4 linked regions of the Homo sapiens genome follow. The protein of the gene in region 3 interacts with the protein of the main gene of each other region in a pairwise test. Each region holds a gene or a part of one and is shown on either strand. Other genes may lie near its edges. The genes, in order: DHX57, GPATCH2L, ZNF473 and SLBP.

What was found.
Region 1: the proteins of ZNF473 (region 3) and DHX57 interact in binary tests that used the Homo sapiens proteins (3 or more experiments, as listed by UniProt).
Region 2: the proteins of ZNF473 (region 3) and GPATCH2L interact in binary tests that used the Homo sapiens proteins (3 or more experiments, as listed by UniProt).
Region 4: the proteins of ZNF473 (region 3) and SLBP interact in a two-hybrid assay, tested with the Homo sapiens proteins (one study listed by BioGRID).

Annotation. Positions count from the first base shown.
Region 1 is NC_000002.12:38,865,924-38,872,949, forward strand, and holds part of DHX57 (putative ATP-dependent RNA helicase DHX57), read right to left. Parts: intron 2,489-7,026; 5' UTR 2,483-2,488; coding exon 2,259-2,482; intron 1,310-2,258; exon of another isoform or gene 1,186-1,309; intron 1-1,185. UniProt on the Homo sapiens protein: Probable ATP-binding RNA helicase.
Region 2 is NC_000014.9:76,154,918-76,161,943, reverse strand, and holds part of GPATCH2L (G patch domain-containing protein 2-like), read right to left. Parts: coding exon 6,919-7,026; intron 1-6,918.
Region 3 is NC_000019.10:50,021,557-50,029,027, forward strand, and holds the start of ZNF473 (zinc finger protein 473), read left to right. Parts: upstream 1-4,448; 5' UTR 4,449-4,566; intron 4,567-7,471. UniProt on the Homo sapiens protein: Involved in histone 3'-end pre-mRNA processing by associating with U7 snRNP and interacting with SLBP/pre-mRNA complex. Increases histone 3'-end pre-mRNA processing but has no effect on U7 snRNP levels, when overexpressed.
Region 4 is NC_000004.12:1,702,304-1,709,329, forward strand, and holds part of SLBP (histone RNA hairpin-binding protein), read right to left. Parts: intron 1,398-7,026; coding exon 1,293-1,397; intron 1-1,292. UniProt on the Homo sapiens protein: RNA-binding protein involved in the histone pre-mRNA processing.

The sequences.
Region 1 (7,026 bases), on a different chromosome or scaffold from region 3:
AAGCACACCCAGTCAATGCTATTGAGTATAGATTCATAGACTGTACACTGCACAAAGGTTCCTGGCTGGGAGGGAAGAAGAGGGAGGAAGGGACAGCAAAATCCGGTCCATGTTCTGCTGGCTAAGCCATGATCCTGGTGTGGGGCTATAACTGTCCAAAGGAAGGAGCACCATTTTCTAATTCACATAAAGGCATACACTGAATAGAAACAACTCTGGCCAGACTGACTGATAATATCACACACCCTTGCCTCAAACCCTCCAAAGGCCTTCTGTCTTACTTCATGTAAAAGCCAAAGTCCTAATAATGGCCCATGAAGTCCTATACAGTCTGGTCTTTCTGATCTAATTGCCTACCACTTGCCTTCTTGCCCACTCATTCTAGCCACATGGTTCTTTGCTATTTCCTAAACCTTCCAAGCACATTCTTGCCTTAAGAAATTGCTCTTCCCTCTGCCTTGAATGCTGTACTCAGAACTTCACAGCTTATTCCTTTACTTACTTCTTGCCTCTCTTCACGTGATACCTTATTAGGGGGGCTTTCTACATAAATTAACAATTCTATTTTGGTATTTTATATCCCTGTTACACTCCTTTATTTCTCTCCATAGCATGCGGCACCTGGTAATGTTATACATTTGTTTATGGTTTTTCTATCTCAAATCCCATTCTATCTAGATAAGGACAATATTTTACTCCCTGCTGCAATTCCAAGTCCCTAAAACAGTGCCTGGTGCATGGTAGGCATTCAGTAAATACTTACCAAATGAATGAACATCTACGGACTCCAAGAACCTATAATGTCCATGTTTTGAAAAACTATGGAGCTGCAGCTAACTCAGAAGTTAGGTTCTTGGCTAGGCACAGTGGCTCACGCCTGTAATTCCAACACTATGGGAGGCCAAGGCAGGAGAATCGCTTGAGCCCAGGAGTTCAAGACCAGCCTGGGCAACATAGAGAGACTATGCTGCTTGCTATTTATAAAGTCTATAGTAGTGTACAGTAATATCCCTAGGCCTTCACATTCACTCACCACTTCCTCACTGACTCACCCAGAGCAAAATCCAGTCCTGCAACTTCCATTCACGGTAAGTGCCCTACATAGGTATCATTTTTAATCTCTTATACTCTATTTTTACTATACCTTTTCTACAACTAGACATGTTTAGATACACAAATACTTACCATTGTGTTATAATTGCTTAGAGTATTCAGTACAGCAACATGCTGTATAGATTTGTAGTCTAGGAGCAATTGGCTACATCATACAGCCTAGGTGTGTTGTAGGTTGTACCATCTGGGGTTGTGTAAGTACATTCTATGATGTTTGCACAACAATGAAATTGCCTAACAATGCATTTTTCAGAACACATCTCTGTCACTAAGTGATGCCTAATTGTAGTTATACTGTATAACATGCAATAGCAAAACATTTACTTTTATTAAATACTCATTAGAATTACTAGAATTCCCATAATTTATTCATTAGTTAAAAGTTGAACAGGAGAGAAACCTAGATAAGGCATCTGTTACTGGTCACCACATGTAACACCATCAGATGATGGCTGATTTGGCTGGAAAATACACAGCTCATCAACTAGAAAGACACAGTACAGTCATGTTGCACTTTAGGCTGTTCAATGTTTGTTTTTTGAGATGGAGTCTCACTCTGTCACCCAGGCTGGAGTGCAGTGGTGTGATCTCAGCTCACTGCAACTTCTGCCTCCTGGGTTCAAGCAATTCTCCTGCCTCAGCCTCCCTAGTACCTGGGATTACAGGTGACTGCCACCATGCCTGGCTAATTTTTGTATTTTAGTAGAGACAGGATTTCACCCTATTGGCCAGGCTGGTCTCGAACTCCTGACCTCAAGCGATCCACACACCTGGGCCTCCCAAAGTGATGGGATTACAGGTGTGAGCCACCGTACCTGTCCATGTTCAATGTTAACATCATCATTTTAACATCAGTCTATGATGCATAAGGAATACTTAAAATAATTTTCATCACACTATTTCTGTATTTACTTTCCTAGTAACACTGGGTATAATAGCAGTATTACACTCAATTCACAGTGTCATGCAACCTACATACACACAAAAGCTGTTATTTCCCATCATGTCTTCAGAAAAGGGTTACAAAGAGGAAGACAATTTGACCAGAATTACTCGACTTTTTTTCCATTCTCAGCCATCTGTTGTCCCATACATTAGGGGTTGATACCATTTCCATATTTAAACATTCAAAGAGTTATAATGACCTGGAAGGGCGCCTTGATTCACTGAAGATACAAAAGTCATCTCCATCATCCCATATTCTACTGGAGGCCTTTCTGTTGCCGCCACCTCCACCACCACCACCACCGCCACCGCCACCACTCCCATGAGATTTACTGGCGTGACTCCTGCCTCCTCTTCCTCCTCTAGAAGACCCTTTTCCACCTCCTTTGCCTGGCTTGCCTTTTCTTCTTACTGAAGAACTCATTTTCACCTGCAAGAGAAAAAAATTAATGTAGACATCATAAAACCAGACATGTATGATAATCCTTTGTTTGCCAAACTTATGAATATAGGCTACTTTAAAGAAACAAAGGAAAATGCATATGTAAAAAGAGCTGGTCTTGGGGCAGGATTCTGAATCTGTTCCAGTGAAAAAATTTTAAAACTACAAAATAAAAAGAGCCAGCCAGTTTAGGGATAGTATGGATAAATCTTCACAAAAGATTTATAAGCACTTCTACCTCAGGACTAATATTTAGTGAATGTCTCTGATACAGATTTCTAAACTAAAGATGTACATCATAAACACATGGAGAAGTGTCAAAATACACATGTCTAGGCTTTAATCCTAGATTCTCATTTGGTTAGGTCTAATTTAGAGTTTTATTTATTTATTTATTTATTTATTTAGAGATGGAGTCTTGCTCTGTCGCCCAGGCCGGATGATCTCAGCTCACTGCAACCTCTGCCTCCTGGGTTCAAGCAATTCTCCTACCTCAGCCTCTGGAGTAGCTGGGACTACAGGCGCCTGCCACCACGCCCAGCTAATATTTGTATTTTTAGTAGAGATGGGATTTCACCATGTTGGCCAGGCTGGTCTCGAACTCATGACCTCAAGTGATCTGCGCACCTCAGCATCCCAAAGTGCTTGGATTACAGGTGTGAGCCACTGCACCCAGCCTAGCATAGGATTTTAAAAATCCAGTTGAGAAGTTTTCATGTATTTAATATATGTTTTGACAAAATTTAAATTTATATATGCTCTATCAGGAACACAGCTTGGGCTCAGAGATTCTGCCAAGGGCAAAAGGGAAGTAGGCCGTAAGACAGATAGCTCCTAATCTTTTTCCAAAGGACTGACTCCATTTACAATGGAGTGTGGAGAAGTTCAAACCTAAAGGTGCTTTCAAGAATAGTGAGGTTGTGGGGAAAGGGAGATTACAGGATTAAATGAAGATGTAGTTTAGACTGTTGGCCAACTAGTTTGCAGGAAGCAAACCAAGGAATAAGATCACTAGGAAGTTCCTTTTTGGGATTAGAATGAGTATTAAACTGGGATCTCAGAAACTATTGCTTCAAAGAAGCCATACTTTGGTTGGATTAGTTTGTAAAGGAATTTACTCTCCAGAGCATTGTTGAAAACAATTCAGCAATCAACCATGGGCATACCTAAAGCTGTACCTCCCAGAGGAGCAACAACAGAGGCTTAAAATCGTAGGAGGGAAATAGACTTCACTAAAATATTCTAGCCAGTCACTAAAAATTAAACCAGCAAATAACAATAAGAAGCCCCTGAAAGGGGAGAATCAGTACCCAGAGTTGTTACAGTATGTTATCCAAAATGTTCAGTTAACAACAAAAAAGTCACAAGGCATGCAAAGAAACACTTAAGTATAACCCATACACTGGAGAGAAAAAGCACAAACTGCCTATGAGTGAGAACAGATGTCAGATTTAACAGAAAAGGAGTTCAAAATAGTCATTATAAGTATGTTCACAGAAATAAAGGAATGCACAATTAAAGCAGTAAAGGAAGGTATGATGACAATGTCATATCAAATTGAGAACATCAATAAAGAGATAAAAAATTATATATATAAAAAGAACCAAATGGGAATTCTGGAGTTGAAAAGTATACTAATTGAAATTAAAAATTCACTAGAGAAGCTCAACCATAAACATGAACTAGCAAGAGAAAGAACTGATGAACTTGAAGACAGACTGACATTGATTATGCAAGCTGAAAACAGAGAGAACGATAAATGAAGAAAAGTGAACAGAGCCTTGGAAAAATGTGGGACACCATCAAGGGTACCATATACATATAATGAGAATACCAGAAGGAAAGGAAAGAAAGAAAAGAGCAGAAAAAATATTCAAAGAAATAATGGTAGAAAACTTCTCTGATTCATTAAAAATCAATAACCTCTACATGCAGGAAGCTCAATGGCCTCCAACTATTAGAAAATAAACACAGAGATGCACAAAATAGACATGTTGCAATAAAAATGTTGAAGGTCAAAAGACAAAGAGAAAATCATGAAAGGAGTAAGAGAAAAACAACTTATCACTTACAGGGGGGAACCCCAATAAAATTAATGACTGATTTCTTCACAGAAACAATGGAGGGCAGAAGGTAATGACATATATATTTAAAATACTCAAAGAAAAAAATAGGGCTGGGCGTGGTGGCTCATGCCTGTAATTCCAGCACTATGGGAGGCCAAGGCGGGCAGATCACGAGGTCAGGAGATCGAGACCATCTTGGCTAACACAGTGAAACCCTGTCTCTACTAAAAATACAAAAAATTAGCTGGGTGTGGTGGCACACACCTGTAGTCCCAGCTGCTTCGGAGGCTGAGGCAGGAGAATCACTTGAACATGGGAGACAGAAGATGCAGTGAGCCGAGATTGCGCCACTGCACTCCAGCCTGGGTGACAGAGTGAGACTCCATCTCAAAAAAACAAAAAACAAAAAACAAAAAAAAAACAACAAAAAATAGTTAACCAAAAATCCAGAAAAGCTATCTTTCAAAAATGAAGGTAAAATGAAAACTTTCTCAGACAAACAAAACTGAGAGAATTTGTTGTCAATAGACCCGCCTCACAAGAAATACTAACAGTTCTTCAAGTTGAGGCAAGTATCCCTGGATGGTAATTTAAATCTACATGAAAAAACAAAGAGTACTAGTAAAGGTAATTGAGTAATTATTTTTAAAAATCCACATTTATATTGGACATTTATTTATTTGAAAACCAGTACAAAAGTATTGTCTCTTCTTTTCTCTGAAATGATTTAAAAAGCAGTTATATAAAATAATATGTATATGATATAATGTTGGGCATGTCACCTACAAGAAGGTAATATGTATGTAATATATTTGCCAATAACAGCACAAAGAAGATTGGTGGGAGCGTAATTGTGCTGTGCTGAGAAAATGACTACAGACAGTAAAGTAATACTTGTAACAAGTATAGTTGGGTATATAACATTAATAGATATAATATGTATAACAATACTATAAAAAGGAGGAAAGGAATAGAGCTATATAAAAGTAATACTTCTATGTATCTGTCTTAGTCTGTTTTCTGCTATAACAGAATGCCACAGACTAGGTAATTTATAAACAACAGAAGTTTATTTGTCTCATGGTAATGGAGGCTGGGAAGTCCAAGAGCATGATGCTGGCATCTGCGTAGTGTCATCTCATGGTGGAAGATGGAAGGCAGAAGTGGGCACGATACAGAGAGAGGTACCAGCTGCCAGACTTATTTTATAATAACTCATTCTTTTTTTTTTTTTTTTGAGACAGTCTCACTCTGTTGCCCCAGCTGGAGTGCAGTAGCGTGGTCTCAGCTTACTGCAAGGTCTGCCTCCCTGGTTCATGCCATTCTTCCACCTCAGCCTCTGGAGTAGCCGGGACTACAGGTGACCGCCGCCGGCTAAGTTTTTGTTTTTTTGTATTTTTAGTAGAGACAGGGTTTCACCATGTTAGCCAGGATGGTCTCGATCTCTTGACCTTGTGATCCGCCTGCCTCGGCCTCCCAAAGTGCTGGGATTACAGGCGTGAGCCACCGCGCCCGGCCTAATAACTCATTCTTGCTATAACTAACCCACTCCCATGCTAGTGACATTAAACCATTAATAAGGGCTCTGCCCTCATGATCGAATTACCTGTTATTAGGCCCCATCTCCTAACACTGTTGCATTGGAAATTAAATGTCTAATACATGAACTTTGGGGGTAAACATTCAAACCATAGCAATATTGCTGGAATTAAGCTAATATAAATCTGAAGTTGTTCATAAACCCCAAAGCAATCACAAAAATACTACATTAGAAAATATTCACTTAATGACTAAATGCAAATGAAAGCATAAAGTAAGAACAGAAGAAAAAATAGACATTGAGAAATACAGACATCCAAAAGTAGAATAGAGTTAGATGTAATTCTCAGTATATAGACAATAAAAATAAATGTGAGAGAATAAAGCAGTCCAATCAAAAGACAGAGATTGTCAGACTTGATTAACAAACAGGATCCAAATATATTCTGTCTGCAGGAGAGGCACTTTAAATTCAAAGACACAATAAATGAAAAGTAAAAGGATGGAAAAAGATGATCTTGCAAACAGCAACTACAAGAAAGGTGGAGTGGCTATGTTAATAGCTTACAAAACAGACTTTAAAGCAAAAAATATTACTAGAGATAGGGATATTTCTTAATGATAAAAGGGTTAATCTGCCAGGAAATGATAACAATTAAAAACACATATGTACCTAATAATAAGGCACCAAAATACACAAAGCAACAACTGACAGAAATGAAGGGAGAATTAGACAATTCAATAATAATAGTAGGAGACTACAGTACCTCACTTTTAATGGTAGAACAACTAGACAGAGGATCAACAAGGAAATAAAAGACTTGAACAACACTCTAACCAACTAGACCTAATAGGTGTCTATAGAACACTCCACCCAACAACGAACTATACATACTTCTGAAGTACACATGAAACATTTTC
Region 2 (7,026 bases), on a different chromosome or scaffold from region 3:
CTGTCTCAGCCTCCCAAGTAGCTAGGATTACAGGCCTGTGCTACCACGCCTGGCTAATTTTCATATTTTTAGTAGAAACAAGGTTTCACCACATTGGTCAGGCTGGTCTCAAACTCCTGATCTTAGGTGATCCACCCGCCTAGGCCTCCCAAAGTGCTAGGATTACAGGCATGAGCCACCGCACCCGTCCTAGAGCTAGTAAGTTTTAGGGCAATTTTTTCTGCAGCAACAGATAATACAGAATCTTTATAAACTCTTTGTTGAAATTAATTCCCTTCTTCCTAAACAGTAGCTTCTAGTTTCAACAAAATAAACCCCTCTGAATTCCCAAAATTGCCAGGGGGAGCAGGGGGTGGGAAAAAAGCACAGCACACCCTCTGATCTGAGAGCTTGCTAATTCTTTCATACTCCTAACCACAGAAGACTGTAAAGTGAGAACTGAAAGAGTAACTTATACCTGTTCCAATTATAATAAGGAGGTACAGAATTACTTTATCACCTACAATCAAAAGTTGGTATTAATAAATTACCATCTGGGTTTGTTTCTCCCCATTTAAGAGCTTATTAACCAAGTAGCTTAATAAGAGGTGTTTTTTGCATCTAATTAATAGATATCTTAAAGTTTATGGCTTACATCGTCATTCTAAAAAACTTTTCTTAGTAAATAATAATGCACTTAACAAAAATAAAAGTTGTTTCAGAATTTAGAAAAACGTGGAAAAAAGTCACTCTTAGATCTACTGCCCAAAGGTATTTTTGTTCTATCGTTTTCCAGTTTTTTTCCAGGGTAGAGGTGGCACACTGGTAACCCTTTGTAATCAGACTTCTGAATCTAGTAGTAAACAAGACTGAGGGAGAGGTTATTCAGAGAAATATCTCACATCAGTTCTGAAATTATTCCTATAAGTAATGAGAATATATAATAAAAGAATTTCTTTTTCAGTTTCATTCAGACAGTGCCATGAAAGGCAGCAACCTCCGCAGGTTGACAGGTTCGATACTGTGACTAGTACAATCAGGTATACTTTGCAGAGACAGAATTTTCCTCAGGACTCTGCTATTGAGCTGGGGGCTGTGCCTCAGAGAAGTCCACCCATCCTTTCAAGACTTCCCTTTTCTTAGAGCTAACAGTGATTCATCTTCAGGTAGATGGAACGTCTTCTCACAGTAAATTTTTAAAGAACATGGATTCTGGGGCCTGCATATCTAAGAATGTCTGAGCCACTGCACCCAGTCTTCAACCCCTTTTAAGATTTTTCTTTCCTTAGTCTTGAGCATATGTGAAAAAAAGAAAAACTAAAATAAAATATTTTTTTAAAATCTCCGTCTCAGTAGAAGTCTCTTCTCATTAATTTTCGCTTTTAATCTTAAGACTTAATTTTTCAACTCAAGAACACTTTTTTCTCTTCAGTTGTATCTTCTTCTCCAGCACTTTGGTTTCTTCCCTGGGAATATTTACATACTCACAGACTTGGTCTCTTTGTTTAGAGCTACTAAGTTTTAGGGCGATTTTTTTCTGTAGCAATAGAGAATACAGATGGCCTATTGCCAAGATTTCCTCAAACTACAAGGCTGATAGAACCACACTTGACAATGAAATGGAGGCCCACGTTAGAAGTGCTGAGCCTGCCCTGAAGGTAGATAGCAAGCCCCTGCATCCTTTCTCTACAGTCACCTTGCAGTTCAGAAATGCAAGGCCAGTTTCAGTCAGAAAATCAGGCAGCTACAGGTTGAGGCAGGGTGTGGTTCTATCCTTCTCTTCCCATTGAGCATCATTCAGTTTCTTTTTTCTTTTTTTTTGAGACAGAGTCTCGCTCTGTCGCCCAGGCTCGAGTGCACTCAAGTGCAGTGGTGTGATCTCGGCTCACTGCAAGCTCCGCCTCCCGGGTTCACACCATTCTCCCGCCTCAGCCTCCTGAGTAGCTGGGACTACAGGCGTCCACCACCACGCCAAGGCTAATTTTTTTGTATTTTTAGTAGAGTCGGGGTTTCACCATGTTAGCCAGGATGGTCTCGATCTCCTAACCTTGTGATCCACCTGCCTCGGCCTCCCAAAGTGCCGGGATTACAGGCGTGAGCCACCACGCCCGGCCTGAGTATCTTTCAGTTTCTATTTGGTGGCTCTAACTCCCAGAATACACTTGGATAGGGAAGCTTAGTGTTTTCTGTGTGTATTTGTGTTTGAGGGTAGGAAGCAGTTATAGGGTATTGAGTCCTAGAAAGTATAGTCTTCAAGAACAAAGATTCCAGTTGACATGGGCAGAGAAGTGCATTCTGGAGACAGTACATTCTGGAGACTGCAGTGTTTTCTACACCTTCATTTACGGCACACTCCTGGAATGGGGTCAGAATCAAGCAGTGAGGGTTAGATGATCCTATCTCAGTCCAGCATAGCTGTATGAGATAAAAGCCTCCCAGTAGCACTGGGAGCACTGGGCTAGGGGCTCTGCATATTCTCTTGGCCAGCTGTAGATCTGAGAATGGCAGTTACCTATGTCCACGGGAGTAGAGAAGGGGACCAAGGGTAATCTATGCACCCTTGCTGGCAAATACCAAGAGGCCTTTGAACAAATTCTGCGAAATAAGAGAAAAGGGAATATCATTCTAAAAGTTGAGAGAAAGAATGAATCTTTGAAGATGACTGCCAGTGGGAACCACAAGAATTCAAGTGGGCAGTTGAGGCTACTTACCAGTTAAGACATTACAATGGTGGGAAGTAGACTGTGACTGAAAAGAATCGCAGCATCTCAGTGTTACAAGGGATCTCAGAAGCCTTCAGTTCAACCTTCTCAACTCCACAGCAACTAAGTAAGCGGTCATCAAGCCCATGTTTGAATCCCCCCACCTGATCTAGAAGTTATTACGCATTACATGGTGAAACAATTCACTTCATTTTTACAGAGTCCTAATTTTTAGAATCTTATTTTTTAACCGCAGCAACATTTAACACTCTGTACTCTCTATCCCTGAGTTCTGTCCTGTGGAGCCACACAGAACAATCCCAATATTTCTTTTAAGAGGTAGACTCTTTTACGAGATGGATGTTTCTTTCAAGAGATAGACCTTCAAGTACAATAGTATCATATCGACCTCCCAAGCTGTGTGTTTTAGTTGTCCCTAAGGATACTAGCAGAACTGTGAATATACCCACATAAGCACACTATGCTAGCTATTCGAGAATCTCACATGCAATACTACCAACTGCAACAATGGTAAATATATTCTTGGTCAGCATCCCTACTTACAGAATAGAAAACAGAACACCCCCACCTACCATACATATTCTTTTACACAGCTCCAGGAAACCCTGATTAATGACCTCCACTTGCAAAGGAGGCTACTTACCTTAACCATGAAATAATGAATGCTATTGATCCAACAAGCTACTGCTATAGAGTGTTATTGATCACCCAATCTTTGGTTAAAATGGTCCTCATTTAGCAATTTCACTGTCACAAACACCTGGAGCAAAGCACACTCATAATTAAAGAGTTTGGGGGAGTTAAAGTGAGAGGTGATGGACAGAGATCTCAGCTTTCTCCCACTTATTCTTGCTTCTGAGCTATTGTTTGTATCAGAAGGGATATTGATTTTCTATAAAAATAAGAAAACAAGAGGCACCAAAGGGCCGCAGAAGGTCAGCCTGGGCTGGAGAAGGAGTGGGTAGGTTTAGCACTCTATCTCTGTCACTTGCCTTCCAAGAGAGGAGAATATTTTCTTTCCTGTGAGATCAGCCTCTAATACATCACCTTAGGAAGGCTCCTGAATGTGACCTCTGGCCATCACCCAACCAATTCACTTATGAAAAAAAAAAGAAGCTAAACTATATTCAAGGGGAACAAACAAATGATGTGTTAGTAAAGAATAGAGCAAAATTAGGCTACAGTCACCTAATAGCTAATAGCTATTAATAGTTGCTATACAGACAATTTAAATAAAGATCAGTAGAAAATAATTTTACAGTAGTTGTTCTGCTTTAGAATACTCACAAACACACATACACAGAAAAATATTAAAATAATAGTTTGATCTCTATGCAAGCAGAAAAAAACTACTATACTATAACCATTTTTAGTTCCTCAAAACTTGTGAGGGATTGGCTGGTGTAATATTAAAGGAAGACCAGAAACAGAAAAGCAAACAAATATTGATGAAGTCTATACTCCATGTTTAGGTCGCAAAGAGTGAGTTTAAGGAAATTAGAAATAAGCTGATTGAGACACACATTTTCAAATCTAAAACATCTAATACATGCTTTAGAAAAAAAAAACGCTACCATTGACTAGGCTAAGCTAAGCTTAACAATCAACTTCATCTTAATAATCTTACAATGTGGATCATTACTCTGACAACCCTCAATACCACTGCTAAAAAGTAAAATTCTACATTTTGATCTGTATGTGAATAAACAGTGGCACATCCAAGTAGATTTATGAAAGGGTAACCAAGAAGATTCTTGAAAGTATTTCTTTTAAAAATGCAGGGAAAAAATAAAGTAGAAAATTATTGACAGAATCAACTCATCAAGACAGTATAATATCCAAATCATATACTATTATCTCCTTACACTCTAATGCCAGCCCTTTTTAAAGGTGTGCCTAACAATTAAGGGAGATTTTAGTTCCACTCTCCTCTTGAAGAGAGGCTGAACACAACATTCAGTCAAAGAGTAAGAATCACCCCCTTTCCCCACAGAATGGATTCAGGGGGAAAAAATACAAAGCACTTCTGTTTGTAACTACAAATGAATCGAGACAAGTCAAGGGGAATTTAGAACTCCTAAATAACTAGAAGATTTTAAAGAACTTTCCTCAATGCCGTGTGTGCCACCACTCCGCCCATTATTCCTTCACAGCTACAACCCTTTAGCATCTACATATTGAAAGAACTCTGAAGTGAGGGGCCAGGATAATAGCCCAAATGGGTGAATGAGTTCTCCTCAATTTGAAAAGAGTAAGAATTTCATAAGAATTCCCATCCACTTAAGTTATCCAGACTCTCAGATAACGAGAATTTACATTATTACATCCTGACTAGAATGTGCAATAGATGTGTCTGGAGTAAGAAGGAACAGAAAAGAGTGAAGCATCTCATGCTAGAAAACAGGCTCTGCATCTGGAGCCATACTTGGGCTGTTAGAGCAGACAGAGTTAACAGTCGCTCTCTCACATACAATTATGTCGTAGTTTAACAAGAAATTAAGGGGAAGAAACATACACAAAGCTACTATCCCAAAAGGCTACTTTTAAAATCACCATTCTCAATACTAAGAAGACTTCTATTTGGTATATATGCTCAATATTAAAACAAACTTGAATGTCTCAATAGAGGGTTTCAATAGTGTGAAAGGCTACAAGTTGACTAAGCATTTCTTGTTTGATTAAAAATAGTCTGATGAGGGAAAAATACCTTTATAATCCAAATATATACATATAAATTCTGCAAATAGACCTTAGAAGGAATGAGGCATTAGAGGAAAATTAGGAAAGTCAAATTATGAGCCTATCTCAATATAGTCTGCAGACTGGCAAATATAAAGTTAATAAGAAAAAGTTTAAAAGCTGGATTAAAAACCACTCAAGAAAGGTACAGGTATACAGACCTAAACAGTTTTTCCTGTTACTGACACAGCCTCACCTCAGTGTTCCTAAGATTAATGTCTTTGTTTTTAAGCTAAACTTCAGAAAGGTCATATGTTCTACAGTTGGGAAAGTTAAATTGAGACAGAACAACTCAAAGGGCAGCACAACATGGTGGTTAAGAATGAGCTTTGGAATCAGGCTTGATTCCCAGTTTTGGCACTGGGTGATCTTAGGCAAATTATCTAAGCTCTTATAACCTCAACTTCCCTTCTGTAAATACAAATAGTGGTATCCACCATATAGTGGAATTGTGAACATTAAATAAGAGTATATGCTAAGTCCATAGTACAGTGCCTGGCCCATAGTTGAGTGCTTAATAAATGCCAACTAATATTAACAATAATAGAATACACTGGTTCTCAACTGGGAGTACTCAATCCACCTAGGGATCACCCCTGGAGGCCTTTGGGTTGATACAATGAAAAGGGGGTGTGAATAATGCAGAGATGCTAAATATTCTGCAATGCACCATAAAGAATTGTCCCATCCAAAACACCAATGGCATCCTCACTATTAAGAAAAAGATAACCACAGATTAATATTAATAACATTAAAGTATCAAGCTGGGGGGTATCAATGTTCCTAGGACTATCTGAGATGTAAAAAATAAAAAGTCACCAAAACTACACTTACATTTTTAAACATGTACCCATTAGAGACAAATTTTTCTGGCTTGATCACATCTGATGTAAGACTAATGGGACTCGGTACTGTTATTTTCAAAGCCCACCATGTGTTCAGACAATTTGAATGTCAGCCATAAAAAAATAAATTCAATATAATCAAACCACAAGTAGCAGAAAACAGAATTATAGCCAAAAAGCATCTAAAGCCATGATTCTTAATGAGGACAGGCAACTTAATGGAACATTTATAAACTCCGTATACCTGGCGCTAGCATATTCTCTCTCACACACACACACCAGCCTCTGCTGAGACCTGAGTTCTAAACAACAATATTTATGTATAAACTGTATGGCATAATAAGCAGCAAATTGTTTTTTAAAATAAAATTATTAGTTTTGCATTTGAGGTACGCGTTTTAAACAGTTTTTAGAAACAACTGTGTTTCTATTACATATAGCCTTCCTGACAGAGGGAAATAGACTCATGAATGGTACCTTAAAAAGCTAAACTACTGATTGATTCAAGGAAGGCTTCAAAGTCAATACTAGAGTGGCTGGTTTGAAAGAAGGTAGAACCCACTAAGACCATGGATGTGCACTTTGGGAAAAATTAACCAGGAAAATCTTTGACTTAGTAAGGGAGATCTCACCATTCTGACATGTTCTCATCAGAGCCCTGTTTTTGTTCATCTGTTTCACACTCCATCCTTTCTTTCCTTCCTGTTTTGCTTAGGAAAGTCCTATTTTCTGCTGATTCA
Region 3 (7,471 bases):
AGTGGGCAAGTCCTCAGACCACTTAAACCCCAGCCTTCAAGTCTTCCTGCTAAGGCACAGGCACTGGGGAGCAGAAACAGGCCACCTCACTGTGCTCACTCTGAATTCCTGGCCCATAGGATCCATGGGCACAAGAAATGGTGGTTCTACACCAGTGAATTGTGGGACGATTTGTTCTCTAGACATAGTAACCGGGACAGGGAGTCCCTGCTGCACAGAGAGGTCAAGTCACTCACTTAAGACGGTTCTCATTTCATGACAGTTCAGTATGTGCAGACCACTGTGCTAAGTTCTCGGCAGGTATTATCTACAGAACCTTCCCAATCACCCTTTTCAAGGTAAGAATGATTTCCCCTTTGGGGAGATGAGAAGCAGAGGCTCAGAGAGCAAATGACTTGCCCAGGGCCACAAACCTCTTAAGCGGCGAGCCAGACACATGATTTTGTTTAATCTTTCCCTCCACTCTATGAGGTAGGGATGATTATCCCATCTTTGAAACCTACAAAATGATGCTCAAAGGGTGACAATTCTCCTTCCCCCAGACCTGACTCCACTCACCTAGAAAACAGTGGGGACGCAGCTGAAATCCAGAACCCAAAAGCCCATGTTCTTCACCTGGTGCCAATTTATACAACGAAAACGCAAAACCGGACTGGGTTCTTGGGGCAGCAGGTCAGAACATTCTTGTAGATTTAAATCTGGAAGCTGATGTTGGGTGTGGAACCACGGCAAGAGAGTCTTTTAACCATGTGCCACCCCCGGTTCTGACACCGTCACCAGCCTGGTCTAGGCCACCATCTCTCCCTTGTGCTACTGCAGCAGCCTCCTAACTAGACTTTCGGCTTCTACGCTTGTCCCTACAATCTATTTTCAACCCAGTAGCTTGACGGATCCACTTAAAATCTAAGTCAGACCCTGTCTGTGTCCCTGCCCTGGCCCATATGGTGGGTCGGACACGGTGGCTCACGCCTGTGATCCCAGCACTTTGGGAGGCCGAGGTGGGCGGATCACGTGAGGTTAGGAGTTCCAGACCAGCCTGGACAACATGGTGAAACCCCGTCTCTACTAAAAAAGTACAAAAAAAAAAATCAGCCGGGCGTGGTGGTGGGCACCCGTAATCCCAGCTACTTGGGAGGCTGAGGCGCAAGAGTCGCTTGAACCTGGGAGGCAGAGGTTGCAATGAGCCAAGATTGCACCGCTGCACTCCAGCCTGGGCAACAGAGCAAGACTCAGTCTCATAAATAAACAAATAAATAAATAAAATGTAAGTCAGACCCTGTCCCTCCTCTACTCAAAACCGTATGGTGGATTTCATTTTAGACAGAATAAATGCTGAAATTCCTACCATGGCCCAGGAGCCCCCTGTATGATCTGCCACTTCCCTGTTCCCTCTCTGACCTCTCCCACCTCTCCCCTTGCTCACGCTGAGTCAGCCACAACAGCTTCGGTGCTTTTCCCCAATCGTGACAAGAACGTTTCTTCCCCAAGACCTTTGCACCTGCTCTCCCATCTGCCTGGAACGCTGTCCCCCTAAGAGTGCACACAGTTAACTTCCTCATCACATTCTTTAGCTCTCTGTTCAAATGTCACCTTCTCAGAGACCTTCTTGGACACGATTTTACTGTGTTTTTTCTTTTCTTTTTTTTGAGATGGAGTTTGGCTCTTTTCGCCCAGGCTGGAGTGCAATGGCACGATCTCGGCTTACTGCAAACTCTGCCTCCCGAGTTCAAGTGATTCTCCTGCCTCAGCCTCCCATGTAGTTGGGATTACAGATGCGTGTCACCACGCCTGGCTAATTTTATATTTTTAGTAGAGATGGGGTTTCACCATGTTGGCCAGGCTGGTCTTAAACTCCTGACCTCAGGTGATCCCCCTCAGCCTCCCAAAGTCCTGGGATTACAGGCTCGAGCCACCGTGCCTGGCCCTGGACACCATTTTACTAATAGCATGTTTTATCCTCCTTACCTTGCTTTATTTTTCTTCACAGTGCTTGTCACTACCTGACATACTCTGACTTACTAGAATGTAAGCTTCATGATGGCGGGGACTTTTCCCTGCCTTGTTTGCCACAGTGTGCCCAGAGCCTCAAACAGGCCTGGCACAGAGCAAATGCTGGGTCTACGTCTGCTGAGTGAATAAATCATTGTCTCCTTTGCAAAAGAAAATGTGCCAAGAAGGTGGGTGGGGGGGGTCCCCAGCTGTGTCAGTACACATTCATCTCTCAGGCAAATCTAGACATCCAGCCAGAGACTCAAAGCTCAGGGCCGGAATTATCTAGCTGGATGGTCCCTAAAAAAGACGTGCCACTTAGAAGCAGATCAGTACAGGGGTTAAGAGGATAAACTTGGGAAATAATCTGCCTGGGTTTGGATCTTGCTTCTGCCATGTATTGCATGATGGACAGAGTTTTGCTATGTCACCCAGGTTGGAGAGCAGTGGCACGACCTCAGCTCACTTGCAACCTCCGCTTCCTGGGTTCAAGCGATTCTCCCTGCCTCAACCTCCCGAGTAGCTGGGATTACAGGCGCATGCCACCATGCCCGGCTAATTTTTTTATTTTTAGTAGAGATGGGGTTTCACCATGTTGGCCAGGCTGGTCTCGAACTCCTGAACCCAGGTGATCCGCCCACCTCGGTCTCCTAAAGTGCTGGGACTACAGGCGGGAGCCACCGTGCCCAGCCAAATTTTTTGGATTTTAGAACCTATTACATATTACAACACCGGCGAGATCCAGGGGCAACTCTCCATAAGTATATGATTTGCACAACAAAATCTTTAAAAATTCTAAATAGTCACACATCAGTTCAGAGTGGGTATTGCCAGCAAACAAGTTCAAAGCCAGGTGAGGTTGGCCTGCCAAGTAAGTTGCAAAACAGAGAAAAAGACCTTTCAGTTTTCAGAACGTTTTGGATTTTAAAGTTATAGATAAGGGACTGCAGACCTGTAAATATTCTTTAACATTTCTTTTTTAGTGTCTGGCATCCCCAACCACCCTGAGAATGTGAATTAGCTGGGCAGGATTTTTGTTTTAGACACTGCTATAATAACCTGGGCTTGAACAGTGCCTATTAGACTAGCACCGTTCAAACCCAGGTTATAGTAGTGTAATATCGGTTGCACGGAGCCTTCCATATAGTAAACGCTCAATAAAATTGGATGTGCTGAAGTCACCTATGCAATGGCCAGGTCAGGACTTGAAACCCTAAGACTCCAACCCTCAGGCCAGTCTTTATCTTAATTTATTTGACTTATTCAACAAATGTTTAGGGAACAGCTGCTATGCGTCAACTACTGTATAGTGTTCCTCCTAGAAAGTTCAGGAAACAGCACAGCAAAAAGGCTAAAAGTCAGACCCCACCTCAGCGCAGGTGGGGCGATTGCCTAGGCGACGACAGAGCCTCCCTTCGGCCGCACCTCCATAGAAACCACGGGATGACTTAGACGCCAAGTTTCACAGCGGAGGAGCTGTCGAACTTCCCACAAGTTCCGCCCATCTCCGCCTTAGCCATGCCCAACACGGAGCCCAAGGTGGCTTGGGAAGCTCAAGAGGAGGCCAGTGAACCCCGCGACCCGGAGCCGCTCTCATTCCGAACCCCGACAGCAGGGGCCTCCGCCTCCCACAAACGGTCGTGCTGACGTCACGGACGCCCCGGCCGAGCTGCGGCTAGGGGGTCGGGGGACGTCCCCTCGTTCGCCTCGCTTCCCCTCACCTCTGTACTTGGGGACTGGGGTGGGATTCTGGGCTTCTGCAGCCTGACCCTCGGATCCTCCGCAGTTACCCGGACTCACCTTCTCAGTTGCCCAGCGAAAACTTCCGCTGGGCGGAGAGCGCTGCGCGCGCATCCTGAATCTGAGGCGCCCGCGCAGGCGCCGCTGACTTCCTGACGGCCCCTGGGCTTCGCCTGCCTGGGAACTCCGTTTCCCAGATGCCTCCGCGGCAGGCCCGCCCTCTGATTCCAGACGGAATGGGGATTATTCCCTCATTGCTCATCCCCCTCCCCTCCGTTCTAGCCGCTTTGGAACGCCTTCTGGTTCTACTGCGCATGTGTCAGTGTCAGACCAATCGGAATGCACCGTGAGGTACCTCTCCACCAATCAGAGGTCACATTACCTAAACTTCTGCCTCAACTCCGCCCCTTACTTCCGCTTGTTTTCTCAGAAACCCGTCACAACGCGTTTCCATGGCAACCTACCGCTTGCTCTTCGGAAAAGGTTAACACTCCCTGACTTCTAGTAAAGGCAAGAAGCTAATTAGATGATTCTTTAACAAGGTAAAAATCTGGACTACAAACTGATGCCGCCTGGTCCTGATTCTCTTTCTACTCTACTCCCACAGTGCTAAGGCTGAAGAAGCAGGAGGAGATGGGAAGGCGAAAGAAGTCGCCCGCACAGCCCTCTGGGAAATAGAGTCCTGGCGCTGCCGCGGAGGATCCTGGGTGCAGCCGCTCAGAGAAGCTTCTCGCGCACAGGAAGTCGCTGCGAGGAGGCGCGTGTGCGGGGAGTTGAATCTCCCGCTCCCTTGAGGCTGGGGTTGCGTCTGTTGACGCGGCCGACTACAATCCCGAGGTACGGAGACGCTGGGGCTGAGGGACTTGCGGGCTCGGTCCTTCCTGAGAGGTGACGGAATGCAAGTGGGGGCGACTTCGGCAAAGGGTGCGTCGCCTTGGGCGGCGGTTGTCAGGGTGAAGGTGTGAACCGTCTTTCACAGTCTGTTATGAAAACCGCTCAAGGTCTGGGCACGGTAGATCACGCCTGTAATCCCAGCACTTTGGGAAGCCTTGGCGGGGGGGATCACTTACAGCCAGGAGTTCCTCGAACCCCCAGTCTCTACTAAAAATACAAAAATTAGTTGAGCGTGGTGGCGGGGGCCTGTAATCCCAGCTACTCAGGAGGCTGAGGCAGGAGAATCGCTTGAACCCAGGAGCTGGAGGTTGCAGTGAGCCGAGATCGCGCCATTGCACTCCAGCCTGGGTGACAGAGCGAGACTACATCTTAAAAAAAAAAAAAAAAAAAGAAAGGAAGAAAACCACCTTGGGAGGCTGAGGTGGGCGGATCGCTTGAGCCCAGGATTTCGAGGCTAGCCTGGGCCAGATGGTGAAGCCCTGTCTCCACAAAAGAAGAAAAAAATAGAAAAATTAGCCGGGCGTGGTGGTGCGCCCCTGTATTCCTAGCTAATTGGGAGGCCGAGGTGGGAGGATTGCTTGAACCCAGGAGGCAGAGGTTGCAGTGAGCTGAGAAAGAAAAGAAAAGAAAAGAAAACTGCTAAAGGGGTTTCCAGGCCTCCCTGATGGCCCTGAGAGGAGTGGTTCTGTTTTATTTTGGTTTTGGTTGGGGAAGGAGGGGAATGAGTTACCTGAAGTTGGCAAATTTAGGCAGAATCTTGCTGGACGATGGATGGGAGTTCTTCGGGAAGTTGAAGTACTTAACATTTACAGTATTTGAGTGCTTTCTGTGTGCCAGGCGCCCTGCTGGAGTTGCATTTCCTCTTCTGATCCCCGCAGCAGCACTGAGACATAAGTGCAGGTCCCCTTGGCACCAAGGCAATCTCGGGAATCAGAATTTTTCAGATTTTAGAAAGCTAATAGGGTGCATATTTTATAATTAGGCAGCACCCCCCCACACCCCGAGGAATCTGGGCCAGTTTTTGGTCATAAAATGTTTCTGTGGGGCAAGGTGTGAATATTCACACTTATGAGAACATTAAGACCCTACATGGCCTGTGGCAATCCAGGTGAAGTTTTGCGGTCAGTTTATAAATCAAGTTCTGGTTTTTGGAGCATTTAAAGGACCATAGATCTGTTGTATTTGTTCCATTTGGTACATGTGGAAACTAAGGCTTAGAGAAGGTAAATGGTCTGGAAGGAAGGGCAAGACTCTTGGGCCCAAGGTCTCTCAGCCTGATAATTGTTTGGCTTAAGTCACTCTGGGCTGGATGACCTTGGGCTCCACCTCTGGGCCCTCGTTTCTTTCCTCCCAGAGCTGAGAGTATATGAGATGTGGGCAGAATGTGATTTGGTAACTGCAGACAGGGATCTCAAGCTCAGCTGTCTGTGAGGGCCAGGCAGATGACATACAGGAAAGAAGAGAACTGGTCCAGGTGAGGCTGCGGGGCCTTGGGGAGCACTTGCCTCATCTGAAGGGGAGAATTGTGTTTTTTTTTTGATGACAGAGTCTCGCTCTGTCACCCAGGCTGGAGTTCGGTCTCACTGGAACCTCCACCTCCCCGGTTGAAGCGATTCTCCTGCCTCAGCCTCCCAAGCAGCTGGAATTACAGGCGTGCACCACCATGCCTGGCTAATTTCTGTATTTTTGGTAGATACGGGGGTTTCACCATGTTGATCAGGCTGGTCTTGGACTCCAAACTTCAGGTGATCCGCCTGCCTTGGCCTCCCAAAGTGCTGGGATGGCAGGCATGAGCCACTGCACCCAGCCGCTTTTTAAACTTAAATTTAATTTTTTTGGCCGGGTGTGGTGGCTCATGCCTGTAATCCCAGCACTTTGGAAGGCCGAGGTGGGTGGATCACGAGGTCAGGAGATCGAGACCATCCTGGCTAACACGGTGAAACTCCGTCTCTACTAAAAATACAAAAAATTCTCCGGGCGTGGTGGCAGGCGCTTGTAGTCCCAGCTACTCAGGAGGCTGAGGCAGGAGAATGGCATGAGCCCGGGAGGCAGAGCTTGCAGCGAGCTGAGATCGCGCCACTGCACTCCAGCCTGGGCGACAGAACGAGACTCCGTCTCAAAAAAAAAAAAAAAAACAAATTTAATTTTTTTTTGGAGGCAGGATCTTTCTCTGTCATTCAGGCTGGAGTACAGTGACACAATCATAGCTCACTGCAGCCTTGAACTCCTGGGCTCAAGTGATCCTCCTACCTCAGCCTCCCAAGCGATCCTCCTACCTCAGTCTCCCAAGTAGTTGGGACTACAGGCACGTGCCACCACAACTTGCTCATTTTTAATTTTTTTTTTTTAGAAACAAGGTCTTGTTACGTTGCCCAGGCTGGTCTCGAACACCTTTCAGCCTCCCAAAGTGCTGGGATTATAAGCATCCCCCACTTGCCTAGCACTGGTGGGGGAGCTTTAAATGGGCACCAGTGAACTAACTTCGTGGGATGTAGACCCAATGTTGCCAAATCCTAGGATGTTTCAGAAGTTGGAAACATAATTTTTAGGTGAAATTTCCCAATTTTCAAGTTTGAGACTAGTGAGCCATGCTTGAATTTTCTTTCAAAACATTCTGTCTGCCAACAAACATTATGGGCCAAATATCTGTCAACTGAGTTATACTCGTAGGTTGAGGCTTAACCTCTGACATGTAGAAAAACTCATTGTTCAGTAGAATTAGCATTTATTGTAGGTCTACCATATTCCCATATTTGTAGTCTCAAAAATCTGGACAACTCAGAACAACAAATTTTTTTTCATAAATTTAGTGTCCGTGCCTTACCTGAACTACTACAGGGTATTTTTT
Region 4 (7,026 bases), on a different chromosome or scaffold from region 3:
CTACCAAGGCATACATCCACCCACACATTTTGATACCAGAAGAAATGACAAATAACTCCCCCAAATGTTCAATAACCAATTCCCACATATTCCCGTCCCTTTTCAAAGGAGGCTGATATAAATACCATCACTGGCTGCCAAAATGAAAACAGGTAGTCTAGGTATCGTTCCGCGGCTGACACGCAAGACACATTTTTCTTGAGACCCTGTTTATCAGCCACTTGTTGGCTAAAATTATCTTGTAAAATACTTCAACCAATTATGAGCCACATTTTAACTGGGTTTGAATAAACCCAGTCCTTGCAACTGGGTTTGAGTTAGACAACTCATCAAAAGAGAAAGGATCAACACACTGATAATCAAGGGAGATTAAACATGGTTAAGGATGCATTAGGTAATGAGTCAACGAAGACGAAGTAGCTTAGTTTGCAAGAACTTGGATACACACAACAATCTTGTGTGCAACTGCAAGAGGTTCACAGAATCCAAGTTTGAGACCTTTCCTTGTATGTTGGCATTTCTGAGCTGTTTGTTGCCTAAGCCAAGTGTCAATGTATTCCTTCATCTGGAGAGAGCACTCCATCTACTGTGCTGGGTTGTGTGAGCACCGCACACAGAAGGTCGGTGGTAACAAATGACTATAGTAAGTTCCTGATAGTTAGGCCGGGCACAGTGACTCATGCCTGTAATCCCAGCACTTTGGGAGGCCGAGGTGGGCGGATCAGGAGTTCAAGACCAGCCTGACAAACATAGTGAAACCCCATCTCTACAAAAAATACAAAAATTAGCCAGGCGTGGTGGCCTGTGCCTGTAATCTCAGCTACTCAGGAGGCTGAGGCAAGAGAATCGCTTGAACCCGGGAGGCAGAGGTTGCAGTGAGCCGAGATCTTGTCACTGTACTCCAGCCCGGGCAACAGAGCGAGACTGTCTCAAAAAAAAAAAAAAAAAAAGAAAGTTAGTTCTGATAGTCCTCCAGCCTGCAATCCAGCAGTAACACCATTGTGCACCTACTTCCACTCTTGGAAGGATTACCACCAAGAGGACAGTGGTCTTCAAGCTTGAAAGAGTGGACCCGCCTGGAGGGCTTTTCACAGGATGGCCAGGCCCCACCCCATTCGCAGGCCCAGGGAAGGGTCTGAGAATCTGTATTTCTAACAAGTTCCCAGGAAATGTTGATGCCTTTGGTCTGGAGCCCAGACCTTTGAAAACCACTGTTCTAAGACAAATATCAAATTTAATGTGTTACTGAAAACGCCACAGATTAACACTTCAAGGTGGTCCAAAATGTGTACCTTGCCATTTCTTTGTTAACTCTGGTCCTCATTTCATCTTCTTCAACTGCACTTGCCCAGTCAGAGCATCTGGAACGGGGTTTAGGGCCTTCAGGAGTGGTAAAGCTGCAATAAAAGGAAAATGCTACTGAACCATGACACATACTTTGTTTTCTTTCAAACTGTATGTCAAGAAATATTCAAAGGCTGGTGGGACACAGTGGCTTGTGCCTGTAATACCAGCACTTTGGAAACTGAGGTAGGAGGATCACTTGAACCCAGGAGTTCAAGACCAGCATGGGCAAGATAGTGAGACCTCATCTCTGTCCCCCACCCAAAAAAATAAAAGCATTATATCAGTGAACTATGTGTATCAAACCATACTAAACTGGAGTTTAGCAGGACAAAAGCAAACTAGATGTAGAACATAACCTATCAGCTGCATCTGTCTATCCAGGGCTGTCTTACTAGAGCAGAAGTCATGGAGCTCCTTGGCAGTGTGCCCACTGTGTTTGGGGGTCTAATAAAACCAACTAGATTTTAGACTTCAAACTAAATTATGATTCCTTTTGGGTGTCCACACTTCAGTAGTCCAGGGCTATCATATGGCTGAAATCAACTTATTTCGTTCATCTCTGGTATGTGTTTATAAAGTCATTAAGATGGGAGATTTGCTTCAAATTTTTGCAGTGTGTGTGGCAGTCAGAAAAACCCATATCTAGTTTTCAGCTTCAGTTCTGGCATTTCTATGGGTTAACCTTATCTCATTGATCCAACATCCGGCCTGATGCTGGAGCTTATGAAGTTGACTCTAAGAAGTTCAGAGAGTGTAGAGTTTCCCATCTTGTATTTAATTTGTCTCTATGCCATTAGTCCCAGCTTGAAGTCATTACCAATGTCAATGTTGACAGGATTGTGACAATATTGCCTTTCATAAAACCGACCACCAAAGAATTCCATTATTCTAACAAAGCCCGAGTTTCACAGATCGCGGGCACATCTAGACAGATGTGTGCATGCTTGACGGTGCAGAGCAACTACTCACTTCCAGCAACCTCGTGCTTCCCCTGGCTGGCCATACAGAGGGATTCGCTGTCATACTGAGAAGGCTCTGCAAGGTAAGTCTCTAATTGAGGCTATCTCAGGTGGGTGTTTCCGCTGTGTAGTCCCAAGCCTGTATCCATATAATAAAAGTGCAGGTCTGGCATTCCTCCAGGTTATCTGGCCAGTGTAGACTCCTCCATCTGAATATGAACCTCCAGGGTAAGAATTTTCCAGACATGTCTATACTAAACAGTATGATCCTGTACTTGCCAAATGTCTGCCTCCTCCTGTTCTGCACTGACCCATTCTTTTTTTTTTTTCTTTTTGAGACGGAGTCTCACTCTTGTTGCCAAGACTGCAGTGCAATGGCATGATCTCAGCTCACTGCAACCTCTGCCTCCCAGGTTCAAGCGATTCTCCTGCCTCAGCCTCCCGAGTAGCTGAAATTACAGGCATGAGCCACCACGTCCAGCTAATTTTGTATTTTTAATACAGGCTGAGTTTCTCCATGTTGGCCAGGCTGGTCTCGAACTCCTGACCTCAGGTGATCCACCTGCCTCGGCCTCCCAAAGTACTGGGATTATAGCTGTGAGCCACCGTACCCAGACTGCACTGACCCATCCTAATTCCTGTTAAGTGTGAGAAGAATTGTCTTCTGTTCTCTCTCCATTCTCATTCATGATGAGATTACTGATCCATTAACCAGTTGAGAAATGACTGATGCTGAAGAAATGGTATTCTATTGGCAAGGCTTATTAACAAACTTCTGATAATGAAGCAGGCTACCAAAAACTTATCCAGCCCACCCCAGGAGTGTTTGGATTTGATCATGGATGTAGCACACACCAAAATCACTAAGACTTTAGACTACTTGTTTTATTTTGTCAGATTATCATGGGACTGTCTTTAGTTCTGAATTATCTGTAAGTCTGAGTACTTCATAGAATTATAAAGCAGGTACAGCTGACACCTTCTCACCATGTTGTAAATATTTACTGAGACTGGGTACAGTACTGAGGGATGATAATCTTCTGATTTATCCAATGCTGACTGTCTACAGCAAATTGTCCACTCTGCAAATGGTCCTGTAACGTGTATGAATGTATTTCTGGGTGCCTTAGAAGTTGTCTTTTTCATGTGTGCTAATATGCAGTATTTATACATTGTGAGAAGTTGATTTTAATAAAAAGGTTGGAACGTCATCTCCAAAATAAATAAATACCCAAGCATGGTGGGGCGTGCCTGTAGTCCCAGCTACACAGGAGGCCCAGGCAGGAGGATCACTCTAGCCCAGGAGGTCAAGGCTGTGTGAGCCATGATCCTGGCACTGCACTCCAGTCTGGGCAACAGGGCAAGACCATATCTCAAAAAAATATATATGGTGGCAGAGGACAGTGGCTCATACTTGTAATCCCAGCACTTTGGGGACGCCGAGGCGGGTGGATGACCCAAGGTAAGGAGTTTGAGACCAGCCTGGCTAACATGGCGAAACCCCATCTCTAATAAAAATACAAAAATTAGCCAGGTGCAGTGGTGCGCACCAGTAGGCCCCAGCTACTAGGGAGGCTGAGGCAGGAGAACTGCTTGAACCCCAGAGACGGAGGTTGCAGTGAGCCGAAATTGCACCACTGCTCCTCCAGCCTCAGCAAGAGACTCCGTCTCAGAAAATAAATAAAATACAGAATAGCTAGCATATCCATTTACCTTTCGGGCGCATGTAATTAATAATTCAGAATGTTATGTACACTATGATTACAATGTGTATGGAGGAGTATATGTCAGAGTCCTTGCTGTGTCAGGACTCCGTCTACTGGCAAAGTACCCCCTGTGCTTGAGTTAAACCACATCCAGGAGCTCAGTTCCATCTCAAGTTCAAGATAGTCTTCAGTCAATATTGGGAAATTTATGGCCAGGCAGTGGCTCACTCCTGTAATCCTAGCACCTCGGGAGGCTGAGGCTGGCAGACTGCCTGGGCTCAGGAGTTCCAGACCAGCCAGGGCAACATGGTGAAACCCAGCGTCTACCAAAATACAAAAACTTGGCTAGGCGTGGCAGCGCGTGTCTGTAATCCCAGCTACTAGGGAGGCTGAGGCAGGAGAATCCCTTGGACCCAGGAGGTGGAAGTTGCAGTGATCCACCAGGCGGAGTTGCAGTGAGCCGAGATCGTGCACTGCACTCCAGCCTGGGGGAGAGAGACCCCGTCTCAAAAAATAAATGAATAAATAAATAATAGTCCGGGCGTGGTGGCTCACACCTGTAATCCCAGCACTTTGGGAGGCCGAGGTAGGTAGATCACCTGAGGTCAAGAGTTCAAGACCAGGCCGGGCGCAGTGGCTCACGCCTGTAATCCCAGCACTTTGGGAGGCCGAGGCGGGTGGATCATGAGGTCAGGAGATCGAGACCATCCTGGCTAACAAGGTGAAACCCCGTCTCTACTAAAAATACAAAAAATTAGCCGGGCGCGGTGGCGGGCGCCTGTAGTCCCAGCTACTGGGGAGGCTGAGGCAGGAGAATGGCGTGAACCCGGGAAGCGGAGCTTGCAGTGAGCCGAGATTGCGCCACTGCAGTCCGCAGTCCGGCCTGGGCGACAGAGCGAGACTCCGTCTCAAAAAAAAAAAAAAAAAAAAAAAAAAAAAAAAAAAAAAAAAAAAAAAAAAAAAAAAAAAAAAAAAAAAAAAAGAGTTCAAGACCAGCCTGGCTAACATGGTGAAACGCTGTCTCTACTAAAAATACAAAAATCAGCTGGGTGTGGTGGTGGGTGCCTATAATCCCAGCTACTCGGGAGGCTAAGGCAGGAGAATCACTTGAACCTGGGAGGTGGAGGTTGCACTCCAGCCTGGGCAACAGAACGAGATTCCATCTAAAAAAAATAATAATTAAAATTTAAAAAATAATAATCAGGAAATCCAAAAGCTTAAGGCTTCGAGCCCCAAATTCTGGCAGTTCAAATTGATGTATCTTATTTATACATCAGACATAAACTCACATTTTTATTTTTCTACCCCATTTTTCTGTTGATCACTACTGACATTAAAACTAGATACTGGGCCGGGTGCACAGGCTCATGCCTGTGACCCCAGCACTTTAGAAGGCTGAGGCGGGCGGATCACAAGATCGGGAGTTTGAGACCAGCCTGGCCAACATGATGAAACCCTGCCTCTACTAAAAATACAAAAATTAGGATAGGCATAGTGGCTCACACCTGTAATCCCAGCACTTTGGGAGGCTAAAGCAGGCTGATCACTAAGTCAGGAGTTCGAGACTAGCCTGACAAACATGGTGAAATCTAGTCTCTACTAAAAATACAAAAATTAGCCAGGCGTGGTGGTGCGCACCTGTAATCTCAGCTACTCAGGAGGCTGAGGCAGGAGAATTGCTTGAACCCGGGAGGCAGAGGTTGCAGTGAGCTGAGATCGCGCCACTGCACTCCAGCCTGGGCGACAGAGCAAGACTCTATCTCAAAAACGAAAAAAAAAAAAAAAAAATCAGGCGGGCGTGGTGGCGCATGCCTGTAGTCCCAGCTACTTGGAGGCTGAAGCAGGAGAACTGCTTGAACTTGGAAGGCAGAGGTTACAGTGAGGTGAGATCACACCACTGAACTCCAGCCTGGTTGACAGTTATGCCCCGTCACAAAAAAATACACTAGATACTAACTTTAATTACAACAAATAAGCAACCTATTTTAGCTGTAAACCAAATGCTGTGCTTTGAAAATGCAATTGCAGTAACAAATGAATAATCCTCTTATGTAATTATCATTTCTTCCCTTACAGTCACACAACTCAGATAAACTTAAATTGGATTTCTAAAAGTAAATTTCCAGATTCTAAAAATGGTAGAAAGTTATGAAATCAAATTAGGTAATTAACTGAAAATTAAATTGACTCAATAGAGGTTTGTCCAGGATTGGATACAAGCATCCTCACTAGTGTATCAAGAGGTTCAAGTCTGGGTCTGCCAACATAACAAATTCCTGAACTACAAGAATAATTTAAAGCCTGTGTATGTGAATGACCATATACTACATGCCATATTTTGGTATCTTTAAGTCCATTTCTTAGATTAAGTAGGTTATATTCATAATCTACCCTATCTTGGGACAACAAAGCCTAATTTTACACACTAAGCTAACAACCTTCCAAAGAGTACTTCTAGATCTTATCCATCAACGAGCTGGCTCTATTTGTCAGGTGCCTCCAGGCATTATCCACAATGTGCAAATACCAAGTGCAAAGGCCCTAGGACAGAAGCATTCCTATAGTTTGAGGAATGAGGACACCAAAAACTTCCATAACTTCTAAAGCACTGTAAGGATTTAATATTTTTATCTTCAGCTAAATGAGACCACTGGAGAGTTCAGAGCTTGATCTCAATAAGGTTTGTTTACCTTCCCTTCATATCTGGACCTAGGGCCTCTTCTGTACCCACCCGTAGACCCAAGTCTTTTGTCTTTTTTTTTTTTTTGAGACAGTTTCACTCTTATTGCCCAGGCTGGAAGGCAATGGCGTGATCTCGGCTCACCGCAACCTCCACCTCCTGGGTTCAAGGGATTCTCCTGCCTCAACCTCCCGAGTAGCTGGGATTACAGGCATGCGCCACCATGCCCGACTAATTTTGTATTTTTAGTAGAGATGGGGTGTTGGGAAAAAGGCTTATCGAGTGCCTGTATAAGCTGGCCATAAAAATATGGCACAGTAAGTTGTGAAAAGCC